Linked DNA regions of Homo sapiens. The protein of the gene in region 1 interacts with the protein of each later gene in a pairwise test. Each region holds a gene or a part of one and is shown on either strand. Other genes may lie near its edges.

Evidence for each region. Proteins that work in one complex are often made in the same cells at the same time.
Region 2: the proteins of SEC22A (region 1) and LDAF1 interact in binary tests that used the Homo sapiens proteins (3 or more experiments, as listed by UniProt).

What each region holds. Positions count from the first base shown.
Region 1 is NC_000003.12:123,198,060-123,205,073, forward strand, and holds the start of SEC22A (vesicle-trafficking protein SEC22a), read left to right. Parts: upstream 1-3,883; 5' UTR 3,884-3,927; exon of another isoform or gene 3,928-4,075; intron 4,076-5,029; exon of another isoform or gene 5,030-6,754; intron 6,755-7,014. UniProt on the Homo sapiens protein: May be involved in vesicle transport between the ER and the Golgi complex.
Region 2 is NC_000016.10:21,154,169-21,161,673, reverse strand, and holds the start of LDAF1 (lipid droplet assembly factor 1), read right to left. Parts: upstream 3,001-7,505; 5' UTR 2,928-3,000; intron 2,350-2,927; coding exon of another isoform or gene 2,233-2,349; exon of another isoform or gene 2,215-2,232; intron 697-2,214; exon of another isoform or gene 590-696; 5' UTR 492-589; coding exon 396-491; intron 1-395. Other genes in the region: DNAH3 (dynein axonemal heavy chain 3), read left to right, coding at 2,233-2,349. UniProt on the Homo sapiens protein: Plays an important role in the formation of lipid droplets (LD) which are storage organelles at the center of lipid and energy homeostasis. In association with BSCL2/seipin, defines the sites of LD formation in the endoplasmic reticulum.

The sequences.
Region 1 (7,014 bases):
TTATCAAATTTTGGAAAATTTTGGCCATTATTACTTCAAATATTTTGTATCACCTCTCCTTTCTGAGTCTCTGATTATACATGTTAGATAACTTTGTATTAACCATAGGTCACCAAGGCTGTGTTCATTTTATTTTAAACTTTTTTTCGCTCTGCACTTTAATGTAGATAATTATTTTTCACTGTTACTTTGTTTACTGATCTTTTCTTCAGCAGTGTATAATCTGCTGTTAAGCCCATAGAGCAAAATTACCAATTCAGATATTGTAGTTTTCTGCTCTAGAAGCTTGATTTGGTTCTTTTTATGGTTTTCATTTATCACATTATTTATGTTTCTTTAAATTCTTGGCCATATTTATAATAGCTTCTTTAAAGTTCTTATCTTACCTGCTTGTAACCCCAGTGCGCTGATGCCCTCTAAAACTTAAAAAAAAAAAAAAAAAAAAATTAAAGAAGAAAAGTGAAGTTCTTATCTGCTTTGAAAACTAATTTCATCATCCTTGTCATTTCTGGGTCTGTTTCTATTGACTGATTCTTCTCCCATTTGTGACTCATGTTTCAATGCTTCTTCACATGTGTAGTAATTTTTTATTGGATACTAGGCATTGCATATATTACATGGTTAAGTACCTGAATTTTGTTGTCTTTCTTTAAAGACTGTTAAGTTTCATTCAAGAAAGCAGTTAATTTACTTGCAAATCAGTTTTTTCAGCTTTGTTCGAGTGGGTTTAGAATAGTCTTTACTATTGGGCTAATTTAGCTTTAAAGTGTGGCCTTTTTAGGGTCTCTTTACCAAATGCTTCAGGTTTTAATAAGATTTAATAAGATTTCCCATTCTAATCAGTCAGAGCCTAAATGTTTCCAAACTCTATTCAAGTTCTTGTAGCTGTTCAGCTTAAATTTCCCCAGTAATTGTTATTTACCAGCCTCATACAATCTATCCTTAAAGTTATACCAAAGATTCACAGGAATCCTTATGTATATTTCTGGAGCTCTTTCTCTGGCACCCTGCCCCACAAATATCATTTGTCTCAATCTCTATTAATTCCAATTTCTGTGTCCTCAACAAACCCTGCTTGGCTTTCTTCTATCCTGTGCTTACCTCCAGAAAGAAATCTGTGGATATTCTGGGGACTCATCTTGTTTGTTTTCCTTCCTTCCAAGATCACAACTTTACTATGCCAGTTGTCCAATGCCTGGAAACACTTGTTTCATAGATTTGGTCCAGTTTTCCGTTACTTGTAGTGGAAGGTTTAGTCTGGTATCACTTATTTATTCATGGCTGGATTGCTCTTAACATTTGGAAAAACATAAACTTTCTATTCAATAGTAAAATACATACTGGAAAATTTCATAAATATAGCATACAGCTTGATGAATTTTCTTTTCTTTTTCTTTTCCTTTTTTTTTTTTTTTTGACACAGGGTCTCACTTTGTTGCTCAGGCTGGAGTGCAGTGGCACAAACATGGCTCACTGCAATATTGACCTCCAGGACTCAAGCAATCCTCCCACCTCAGCCCCACAAGTAGCTGAGACTACAGGCGTGCACCACCATGCCTGGCCAATTTTCAGAGAGGGTTTGGCCATGTTGCCCAGGCTGGTCTTGAACTCCTGAGCTCAAGTAATCTGTCTGTCTCGGCCTCCTTGGCCTCCCAAAATGCTGTGTTGGGATTACAGGTGTGAGCAAGCCACCATATCCAGTCCAGTGAATCTTCATTAATTGAAAACACCATGTAATCAACACCTGGATCAATAAGAACATTACTAGATCTCCAGTAGCCCCTTATTGCTCCTTTCTAATTATTAACACTAATAATTATAACTTATTGGTTACCCTTGGGTAACCAATATTTTACTTCTATTACCTTATATGATTTTTTATTTTGAACATTATGTAAATGGAATCATATAGTAATCTTTTTTGTGTCTGACTTATTTCACTCAATTTTTATGATTGTGAAATTCATGCATGCTTTGCATATGGTTGTAGATTATTGTCTTTCCTGTATAGTATTCTACTATGTGAATATTCTTCTTCCTTTTTTTTTTTTTTTTTTTTTGAGAAGGAGTCTTGCTCTGTTGCCTAGGCTGGAGTTCAGCGGCATGATCTTGGCTCACTGCAACCTCTGCCTCCCAGTTTAAGCAATTCTCCTACCTCAGCCTCCCAAGTAGCTGGGATTACAGATGCCTACAACCATGCCTGGCTAATTTTTTTGTATTTTAGTTGAGATGGGGTTTCACCATGTTGGCCAGGCTGGTCTCGAACTCCCAACCTCAAGTGATCCACCCCCGCCCCCGGCCTCCCAAAGTGCTGGGATTACAGGCGTGAGCCATCGCGCCTGGTCAGAATATTCTAAAATTTATTTATTTCATGAACATTCTTATACATATGTTTTCTGGTGAATATATGAATACATTTATGTTGAGTATATATCTAGGACAAAATTTATGTTAGTTCAGGCCTTTCTTCTGAACTCTAGACCTACATATCCAAATCTACTTGACATCTCCATTTATAGGCATTTCAAATTTAACATATTCCAAACCATTTGCTCCTCTTTCTGTGTTCCATGAGTCAGTAAATGGCTTCTTAATCCATCTAGTTACTTAAGGAGTCATCCTTAATATTCCTTTTTGTTGACCCTTCCCGGCAAACCAATCCGTTATGAAGTCCCTTGGATACCATTTCTAATTTATACATATCTTGAAATTATCTACCTCTTTCTGTCTCTAACTCCCATTACACTAGTTCAAGCCCCATCATTTCTGGCTTTGCCTGACGCAACTGCCTCCAAATGGCTTTCCAGCAGCCCTTCTTGCCCTTTTCCACACTATTCTCCACAAACAGCCTGAGTGATTCTTAAATATGCAAATAGGATCCTACTTAATAGTCTTTATTAGCTGCCCATTGACCTTGGGCTGAGATGAGACAAGGGCCAGACCATGCTGACTCTTATTGGCCACATTACAGATTTCAGGCTGTATTTTGGAAGATATCTTAAGGTCAACGGGCAAAGTTTCTCCTTGCTCCCTACACTCCATCCACACTGACTCCCTTTTAGTTCCTAGAGCACAAGAAGTTCTTTCATGCCCCGACAACCTCACACAATATTTCCTTGGCGGGGAACATTCTCTAAGGCTCTTCAATATGCCTGCCGCTTAAAAGGCACTTATTCAGAAGTCTTTTCCCTGATAGTCCAAAATTAATTGATCATTGCACCCACTAATTTTCCCTCCCAATACTGACAATTTGTAGTTCTGTAACTATTTATGCTTTAATATCTCTTGCTCCAATTACTCCTTAAATTCCATCAAGTGTTATGTCCACTCCTGTAACCCCGTGCTTAACACGGTGCTTGGCACATGGTAAACAGTCAGGAAATGCCTGTTTAATAATGCATGACCGATGCGAAGGCTGGAAGGGGTCGCAGGGTCAGCATCTGGCACTTCTCTGCCATGGTTAGTTTCCTTCTTGTGTGTGGGAATAGACGGGGCCAGGTCTTCTCCTTGCTCACCCAGAGGGGGCTTTTCTCCCTGTCCCCTTTATAAGTGTCTGCTGTAGGGCCGCGTGTGAGAGACAAAATGCCTGCAGAAACAGGGCGGCGAGCGGAAGAGATTGGCCCTATTTCTGAAGTCAACGTAGTTCTGTCATCAGAGGATGCTGTACTTTTCTGGCGCAGGTGCGAGAGAAGCTGCCAATCTCTCCTGGAGCGGGTGGGACTAAGGAGGGCCCCGGGAGCTGGGGGGTTGTTGTGTCCTTCCTGCAGAACCCGATTGGCCTGGGTGAGCTGAGGGAACGGGGGCGTGGTTTGATTCCGCGGGCGCGAGCCACGTTGGACGCGCCGCAGCGTCGCCGAAAGGTCCCTCCCAGGCCCCACAATGCACTTCGGGGCGCGTCACTCGGAGCGGCGGGTCCCGTCTCGACAGGTACTCCCCGGCCCCTCCCAGTCCTCTTCTTCCTTTCTTAGGGGTCGTTCGAATCCCTGCCGGCCTCTCCCCTCCCGCTCCCTGCCTCTCGCCACAGCCTCGGCCTTCGCCCTCGGGATTGAAGACCTACCCCACGGGCAGGAGCCAAGTCCGTGCCTTTGGGATGGGAGTCGGGGCCGCGGAGCTCTGGAGGGACGGGCAAGCGGGGACCCCGTCCCCTTCGACTTGAGGGTTCTCTGGGGCCAGGCGGGCGGCGGTTGCGCCTCGTCTGAGCCGCCTCGGGTGTTGGGCAGCCAGGAAAGGAGTGTTTGAAGGGGAGGGACAGTCGCACTTGGCTGTCAGCATGGTGGTGGGGATTCCCTGGCGCCCAGGTGTCAGAAACACGGTGATCTACCTGTGTAGGTGGCCCATGAGAGCTTGAGGTGGCATTTCCTATTTCTTTTAGGCAGAATGGGACTTGAACCAGTGTCTTACTTTACGTTTTGTGGGGATGGAGTGAGCCCTGAGCCCAGATATTTGCCCGCGTTGGCTCACGGAAATCTCTTGAGACCCTGTCTCAAGAGTCACTTTGGGAACGATGTGGCAGAAGGGAGACCTGAGCAATTGGCTCGGCAAGTGGAGGAGGCTTCCAAAAGAAAAGGACAAGCCCCAGCTGGCTTGAATCTCTCTGCCAGTGAAGACAGCTTAAGATAATTTTTCCCTGCTGCTTAGTTTCCTGGATCATCCACCTGGGGCAGGGGGCGAGCTTGAGAACCAGTCCCTCCTATGCCTATTCAGCCAAGGCAAAGCCTAGCCCAGAGCAAAAGTATCAGCCACCAGACTGGAGATGTTGGGATCTTCAGTCAGGGGAACAGCCACTTTTCAAACTCTGAATCACTTTCCATGTTACTGATATTTGCTTACATGCTAAGATTGTAAGGAATCAGGCAATGCCTTAAACGGTACCTACAATTTCTGATATATTAAGGTTCATTCAGTATTTGACTCTGACACCTGTGACCATATCCTAAAGTAATGGGACATTCGGGTATTTCCTATGTTGAAAACCATCACATCTGTTTAGTGCCTTTTTTTTTTTTTTTTTTTTTTTTTTTTTTTTTTGCGTGCAACTGGTTAAAATCGAAGTATATCTTATGTTGGTATATGAAAGAGGCCTAGGTCTTATCACAGGGGTGCCTGTGACCTTCCTTGAGTGTCTCACAGAGTTGTTAGAATTGGGCCTGAGTTTAAATCCCTACTTTGTCACCTACTCGTTTAGGGATTAAAAAAAATTCCTCAAGCTTTCTGGGCTTGAATTTCCTCAAAGGTAAAATGGAACTAATAATACCTATCTCACAGGTTTTTGGAACGCTTAAATGAGGTAATGTGTATAAAGTGCGTGGTCCATGGAGAGTAATCAATAAATAATACAGCAAATATTTAATGTAGTGCTTTTAGCATGTTACAAGGCAATGTTTCAGGCACTTTACATGATCCTATGAGATAGATACTATTGTCATCTTTAAAACAAGCCTATGAGATAGATGCTATTAGTAGCCACAATATATAGATGTGGAAATTGAGATATAGAAAGGCAAAGCTTGTCCAAATTTACATGGCTGGTAGATGGTGGAGCCAGGATTAGAACCCAGGCAGCAAGTGAATAGATAGTTTCTATATCCCTGGTTTCTTGTGTCTTGTTGGTTTTGGGAGACTGATGAAGCATAGTGATGTAGAGATACTAGAAACTTAGACCGAAGTACCAGTTCTGCTATATACTAGCAGTGTGACATTGAGAAAGTGAGCCTTAGTTTCCTCATCTGTAAAATGGTGGTTTTACCTACCCAACCGTGAACTATGTGGCACTATAAAAATGTTGGGATTGACACATTTGAGCATGTATTGGGGGCCCTGTCCTAGATGTGGGTAAAATCTGTTGTGAAGCCTGAGGTCTTATACATACTGTGCAGTGCAAGCACCCATAATAGGAATGTCGAACACTGCTAGTGAGGTAGAAGGCATAGGCAAAATGGCGGAAATTCCATCCCCTTTATCACCCACTCTATCCCCCACCCTCAGCGAGCACTTTTAATAAAATAATATGTACCATATTGGTATTGTTTCCCAAACTTTGGTACTGTCACATATGCAAGATAATTTGATAAGCAAATGAACATTAAAAAATTCTCCCCAAATTTTCACACACATACATATTTGAATGAAACAAGTTCATTTAATTTAAATTAGGAGAAAAACTTAACATCTCAAAACTGATTTCACAGATATTATTGCTAAAAAATAAAGGACAAGAAAAGTAAGTCAATTCAAAGACCAATATTAGGTAAATAGTACAGGTGGATGAAGATAATTCTGAAAGTGGTACTTGGATGACTGAAGACTGGGAAGTTATGAACTAAAATAAATATGAGTGCTTTTGCCCCCAGTATAAAATGTTTTTATCTTAAAAGTGGCATTTGTGAAAGCATTTGGTTAGAACGTATATACAAAATCCACTTACATGTTGGGCTTTGTTTATTACCTTTTGAGAGATAACTTCCTGAGACATTGAGCCTGTAGTCATTACCCCTACAAGGTTCTGAAGAAGAGGGGTGTCTTATTATCTTGGGTCCAGGAACTTGCTAACCACTACTATAGTAGTTTGGCATTGTGGGAATTTATTTTCCTCAGCCTTTACATAAAAGTTTACCCAGATTTACCTAGATTCTAGCTTGTGCTTTTTCCTCCAACAGTTGCTGATGGGGAGAGGAAAAAATAGCCACTATTCAGGTTCCCTGTGAGTTAACTGCTGCTGTACAAAGGCAGGTGTAATATTTTCTCTGTATTAAAGGTGAGGAGAAATGGCCCAGTGCCCTAAACATTTATCTATGGCCCCGATAAGCTAAAAACTCCTAAATCTTCCCATGCAATTGTTGTAATCTCTTGCTTTCCACAGTTCCACTGGTTCTTCCTTGGGATTTTCCCAACCACAACCCTCCTTAAGACCTTAAAGATACTTTAACCTAGCTTAGGCCTGACATGGACAGATTTCCTTTTCTGCTAGCACAGTCCAGATAAGATTAGTTTAAAAAAAAACAAACTATATTATGA
Region 2 (7,505 bases), on another chromosome or scaffold:
AAAAAGGATGATATCTGTTGCACAGACTTCTTTATCCAGCTAAAGAATTGCATTTGCCATTAGTGGCAAATGACTCAATGTTGGCTTAAGGGATGTAATTGGAAGTATTGTGTGCGACTCCCAGAAGTCTCCTTAAATTGTAGGTGGCTTGCACTTCTCTCTTCCCCCCTCCTCAAATCCTGTTGCCTGAAAGATGGATACAATGGCTGATGCTCTTGCAGTCATCTCAGACAAGGAGTTTGAAGGTCACAGCATAGACATGGCAGGGCGGTAAGCCAGAAAGATTCTTGACTTACCTCCAAATTCCTTCTACTGGAGAAAGAAATAACTTTCTATCTTGTTTATGCTAGTGTTATATTGGGATTTTCCATTATACATAGTGATTGGAAACTGACCTTTGAGTTATTCTGGAAGGAGTCTATCAGCAGAGACAGCTTCTTCTGCAGTTCCTGCAAGTCCCTTGAGATACTCTGGGGCTCCTCTTTTGCCATTCTGAAGCTCACTTCAATCTCTTTAGGGATGAATTATCCTACCAGTAAATTCTCCAGTGCAGCCCGCGGTCCAATCTCTCATGTCGCTCTGTCTCTTGCTGTTACCAGAGGAAACAAAAGCCGTTAGTGGTCTTCATCCATCTGGTTCGACGAGAGCTTCTACCATCCTCATACCTTGATGGTGGGCATGCAGACGGAGGGTAACCTGGCAATATTCACAACAATTTCAGATTGCACACACTTCAATCCAGGAATTTATATTCCAGGAACATGATGGAAATAATCCAACAGGTATCTCAAAATGTACTAAAAGGCTGTGCATTGCATCCCTGTTTATAACATATAATGACTAGCAAAACATTGGAAAGTAGCTAACTGTATTTCCATTAGGAGAAAATTGGTTAAATAATGATAAATTCAGTCATTAAAATGATAGTGTGACTGTTTAGTGATGTGAAAAGATGTGTATGATACTTTTAAAAAAAGATGATAAAATGTTAATAGTATTATCTCTGACAGCTTATGTTTATTTTTTAGCTTGACAAAATGCTGAAAATATACAGAAAGCAAGAAAGCTGAACACACTATTTCAAATCTCATTGCCTTTTATTCTCCCTAGAAAGCTTTCCTTGTACAACAGTAGCCTTGACCTGTTTCTCTTCTTTATTACTGTACAGGTTGGCTCCCAATTCCATCATTCCATACATCATCATCTACTTACTTGTGGGTAAGTCTATCCCTGCTAAGGAGAACTGCACCTCGGGGGCAGACCTCACCACAGTAATTATACTCTAACTAAACTGCCTGGAATTTTGAGGGGTGTCCCAATCTCATACAATTTTTACTTATTTTTAATAAAGGCAATTGGTTAAATTAGATATATTTTTTAACCCTTGTTGAGTTTTCAAATATAAAAAAAAAATCATTCTTATTTTATATTTCCCAGAACTGGCTGGACACAGAGATATCTTTTCCATTTCTCCCTTTAAACTGACCTGACCTACAGTACAAATGCTTAAAAGATTGTGTCCACGTGGCCAAAATTAATTGAGAGATCCTCACATTTATTTATCATATAGGGGGTAATTTTATCTACTACTAAGCTGTACAGGGTCTAGTATGCAAATTAAAGCACATTTTAATCATCCCAGCTAGACATCCTCTGCTACTTCCCTTTTGTAAAACAAGAAACCCTTTGGAGGGGAAAGTTGAGGAGGGGACTAATCCCACCACCCCACATTCTCTCTTTGAAGCTGCCTCTGGCGTAGGTCTTGAACTTGGGATGTTCCCAGCACTCAGTTCCCATAATCTCATCTCTGCAGCAAGCAGAAACAAGCGGAGTTCCCCTTACAGGTCTCCTTTGGCCTGGGAGCCTCAAGTGCCACCCAGACCGGTTTGGGGAGTCCGATGAGAGAGTGCGTGGGGCGAATGCCATCGGCCACAGCCTTCAAATGCGTCTACCTGGCCACCAATTCCCAGACCCCCTGGTCACTCACTCCTCGGAGGGGCCTCCCCAGGCACGGAGCTGTCTCCCGAGAAGGGAAAGCGAGAACCCGGCGCGGCCAAGGAGTGCCCCGCCTTCTTCACGCCTGGGGGACTGGGCCAGGCCAACACCAGCTAACCCTTTCCCCTTCCAAGGCTCCAAATAAATCTCCTGGCCCTCCCACCCCCGAACCTCCAGGGGAAAACGGCTACCTCGAAAGTTCAAGCTGGGAGGAGGGGTCACATCTCTGGTTGGGGGATGGGAGCTACAGGGCGCCTCGAGCTCACACTGGCCGCCCCTCCCCATCCGGGCCCAGCCTTTCAGCGTTCAAAAGCCAGGGAGACCCAAGGAGAGGAGGAAGGGAGTGAAATGCAGGTGGAGAGGGGGTCCGCGTCCCAGAAGGCACAGAGACTGAATAATGGGAACTCAGAGGGGAGTCGAGTACTTAGTTATTAATTTGGGGGTAAAGAAGCCCCCTTTGATACTTGCAGATCTCTCTGCAGCGATGGGGAAGGGGACCTCGGTGGAGAAGAGGGGCTGGGTGGTGAGGAAGGCGCCCGTTTTCAATAATCCTAGGGAGGTTTGCCTCGACGTCTTCCCCAGGTTCCCCAGAAAGGGGCACAGTCTCGGGGTGTGGTGGTGCTAGCTACCATTTTACCTAATCTAGTGGTAGTGTGTGTGTGTATGTGTGTGTGTGTTGGGGGGTGGCGGGGTGAGTGTGCATTTAGGGGTGGGGAGGAATCGTGTCTCCTCGTGCGCTCCCAGCCCCGTCCCGGCGACTCATAAGCAGGAGACGCCCCTTACACTAACCCCGGGGCAGAAAGCTACGGGCGTGGGACCCCGATAGCGCGCTCACGCCGTCGCCCCCGCGCTCCTCCTCTGTCCCCGCCCGGCGAGAGGGGTCTAGCCACCCGGGGCACCCGGACCCCCACCCCCAAGCTCCGAGCTCTCACCTGCTCCTGACCGCCGAGCAGCCCCCACCGCGTTTGCAGGCGAAGCGAAGAGAGGCAGGAGGAGGAACAAGAGGAAGAAGGAAAGAGCGTCCCGAGAGGGAGCCAGAGCCGCCTGCCTCCGCCCCCTGGCCCGGGCACCGCCCCTCGGCTCTTCTCCTCTGGGCTCGCCCCGCCCGTGGCCGGAAGGATCCGGCAAAGGCGCGCCAAGGCCCGGCGCCCAAGGCTTTGCAAAGCGCGCTCGCTCCCACTGGCTTTCGGAGCCACTAGAACAAGCCCTGAGAGGTTGACAGCTGAGGAAACTGAGGCTCAGAGAGTGTCCCTTCCCACACGACTGGCTTGGAGTGAGAAAGCTCAGACCACCTTCAAGACAGGCAGACTGGCAGCCGAGAATGAGTTTTCCAAGGGTGTCAGGGTTTCCCCTCCTGTATGCCTAAAACCAGCTGCTCTGGAACGTCTCTGGCGCTCAAGACACACACGTGATGAAGTATCACCCTGGCTGGAAGTTTTTAACCATGACTGCTCAAATGCGAATGTCATAAGCCAGTGAGATCCTTTCAGATGGATTGGATGTCCATTTTACACATGAAAAAGTCCAGGCTGAGAGAGACAAGATAAATCAATCCAAATTCCTCGGTTTGCATGGATCCAAGTCGGAGCAGGAGCCCCTGTTTCCCCTGGCCCCAAATCTGCCCTATAGAGTAAGGTTTCTGAATAGTATGCTATTGACATTTGGGGCGGAATAATTCTGTTTCTGAGCTGTGGATTGTAGAATGTTTAGCAATATCCTAGCCTCTACCCATTAGATGCCAGTTACAAGAACCGCCCCCCCCCACCTCCAGTTGTGTCTCAAAATATTGCCAAATGTCCCCTGGAAGGCCCCATCGTCCCGAGGTGAGAACCACTGCTATAGAGCATGATGGCAACTTACTGTGTGACTAAGTAACCTCTCTGAACCATGGCTTCAACCATAAATTAGAGAGAGGGATAAGCCCAACCATTGGTCTGCTGTTGCACAGTTCTCAGCCACTTTCCAGACAGGGACCTGTGTTGACCGACCTCTCCTCTTTGCCTGTGGCCATAGCAACCTGGAAAATAAGTCTTTAGATAACAAAAAGCTGGCAGGGTGCGGTGGCTCACACCTATAATCCCAGCACTTTGGGAGGCTGAGGTGGGCAGATCACTTGAGGCCAGGAGTTCCAGACCAGCCTGGCCAACATGGTGAAACCCCATCTCTACTAAAAATATAAAAACTAGCCAGGCATGGTGGTGCGCACCTGTAATCCCAGCTACTCGGGAGGCTGAGGCAGAAGTATCGCTTGAACCTGGGAAGTAGAAGTTGCAGTGAAGACACTGCACTCCAGCCTGGGCAACAGAGTGAGACCCTGTCTCAAAAAAAAAAAAAAAAAAAAAGAAGCAATCACAGGGTTGTAGTGAGGACTGGTGCAATAGTGTGGCTGTGGCTGTCGAGAACTTAGCACCTATTGAGGCACAGAGTAGGGGCTCAAAAATATTTGCTTGGGATGATGATTTATGATGATGATCACGACAATGATATGATAAACCACAGAATCCTGCTGTAATTCCACAATAGCAGAAAGAAGAGCTAATGGTGGGGATAGGACAGACAAGAATCCCTAAATTCTTAAGTTTTAGCCAATCTTGTCTGGCGTCATGCACTTTGTTCAGCTGCAAAATGCTGGGTTCCCCACCCAGGAAAAGATTGTGTGTGTGTGTGTGTGTGTGTGTGTGTTTCCTTAGATTACAGCCTTCCAATCATCATTCCCTAAATGGAAGTTGCTTTGGAAAGCTGAGTTAGGGTTTCCACTGGGATTTTTGTTTAAGAGTGCCATCTAGGGGCGTCTCTGTGAATCTTCAAATTCCTTCCACCTCTGGCATTTTTGGCTGGGCCAGCAGAGTTTTGCTTGTCTTTGTGTGATAGATGCTTCCTCCATCACATCATGTGTTCCTCCAGGGCTGGGATCCTAGCATCTCTCCATAGCATCAGGACTTGGCCCTCAAGGAACATGCAGTGGTTGGGTTAAAAAAATCCACGCGCAGCCTCTCCTATGCTTTCCCAATTACTTGCTGCAATGGACTGAATGTCTGTTCCTCTAAAATCCTAACCCCCAATGTGATGGGATTAGGCATGGGGTTTTTGGGAGGTGATTAGGTCATGAAGGTGAAGCCCTCCTAAATGGGATTAGTGCCCTTATAAAAGAGATCCCAGTGGCTCACACCTATAATCCCACCACTTTGGGAGGCCAAGGTGGGTGGATTGCTTGAGTCTAGGAGTTCGAGACCAGCCTGGGCAACATGGCGAAACCTCTTCTCTACTAAAAATACAAAAGTTAGCCGGGCATAGTGGCACATGCCTGTAGTCCCAGCTACATGGGAGGCTGAGGCAGGAGGATCTCTTGAGCCCAGGCAGTGGAGGCTGCAGTGAGCTGAGATTGCACCACTGCACTCTAGCCTGGGCAACAAAGTGAGACCCTGGCTCATTAAAATAAAATAAAATAAAATAATAAAATAAAATAAAATAAAATAAATAAAATAAAATAAAATAAAATAAAATAAAATAAAATAAGAATAACTCCCAGAGAGCTCTCTTACCCTCTTTCCACCATGTGAGGATACAATGAGAAGTTGGCAGCCTGCAACATGGAAGGGGGCCTTCACTGGAACCAGACCACCCTGGCACCCTGATTGTGAACTTCCAGCCTTCAGAGCAGTGAGAAATAAATGTCTCTTGTTTATAAGCCACCCAGACTTTGGTACTTTGCTATAGTAGCCTCCAAGGATTGAAACTGTTGCTCTGCTTAAACAACTATTTTAGGCCTCAGGAATGAGCTGCCAGGAATACCAGCCTCTGAATAAGAAATGTGTGAAATTTTTTTAGCAACAGATTAAGACCCTAAACTCTTGATAACAAGAGGCAGGGGCAACTTGGAACCTTGCTGACCTCTGCTCCCCATGTTGGCAGATTTGGCAAATAAAAACACACGACACTCAATTAAATCTGAATTTCAGGTAAATAATGGGTAACTTTTTAGTACAAGTACAAGTACAGCCCATGTATTGAATGGGACATGCTTATACTAAAACTTTTTTTTTTTTTTTTTTTTTTTGAGACGGAGTCTTGCTCTGTCTCCCAGGCTGGAGTGCAGTGGCGCTATCTCGGCTTACTGCAACCTCCACCTCCTGGGTTCAAATGATTCTCCTGCCAAAGCCTCCGGAGTAGCTGGGATTACAGGCATGTGCCGCCACGCCCAGCTAATTTTTGTATTTTTAGTAGAGACAGGGTTTCACCATGTTGGTCAGGCTGGTCTCAAACTCCTGACTTTGTGATCCGCCTGCCTCGGCCTTCCAAAGTGTTGGGATTACAGGCATGAGCCACTGCTCCCGGCCCTAAAACATTCTTTTACCTGAAAAATTGTTTGACTGAAACTCTAATTTAACTGGGCACCTTCTGTTTTGTCTGGCAGCCCAATTGAGAAACAAGGCCGGGCATGGTGGCTCATGCCTGAATCCCAGCACTTTGGGAGGCGGAGGTGGGCAGATCACTTGAGGTCAGGGGTTCGAGACCAGGCTGGCCAACATGGCAAAACCCCATCTCTACTAAAAATACAAAAATAAGCCAGGTGTGTTAGCACACGCCTGTAATCCCAGTTACTGGGGAGGCTGAGGCAAGAGAATCACTTGAACCCAGGAGGTGGAGGTTACAGTGAGCCGAGATCATACCACTGCACTCCAGCCTGGGCAACAGAGCAAGATTCCATCTCAAAAAAAAAAAAAAAAGAAAGAAAGAAAAAGAAGATTGAGAAACTTGAAGCCTATATCCTTTCTTAAGAATTATCCAACACAAAGTTGTCAGACAACAAACAATTCTGGTACAGGTGAGGTGGCCTGGGGGAAGTCACTTTCACTCTCTTTGGCAGATACTTTATTTTCCACCTTTCCTCAGATTACATGTAGGTTTTCGGTTGAAGCCATGGAACAGATTTCATAACCAAGTTCAAGCTTTCCTGATGACCTAGCTGTGTGACTATGGGCAGGTTAGTTTAATGTATCAGTTTCCTCAATCATAAAACTTGTGAAAATACTGATATTTATATTCTAGGTTGTTGAGAAGATTCAAAGACATGATGTCTACTAAGTGCCTAGCAGCAGTCCCAGGGCATAGTATATGCTCAATAAGCGAAAGCCATTAGTATTGTTTTGATAGTTTTAAACACTAGTAGACTTAAAACACACTAAATTTCAGATGGTAGCATACCTCCTACTCACACACAGGCCATAGGGTCCATTAGCTCCACATCAGGACCATTCTAATTTTTTTTTTTTTGAGACAGAGTCTCGCTGTGTCACACAGGCTGGAGTGCAATGGTGTGATCTCAGCTTACTGCAACCTCCACCTCCTGTGTTCATGCAATTCTCCTGCCTCAGCAACCCAAGAAGCTGGGATTACTGGTGCCTGCCACCACGCCCGGCTAATTTTTTGTATTTTTAGTAGAGACGGGGTTTCACCATGTTGGCCAGGTTGGTCTTGAACCCCTGACCTCAGGCGATCCACTCGCCTTG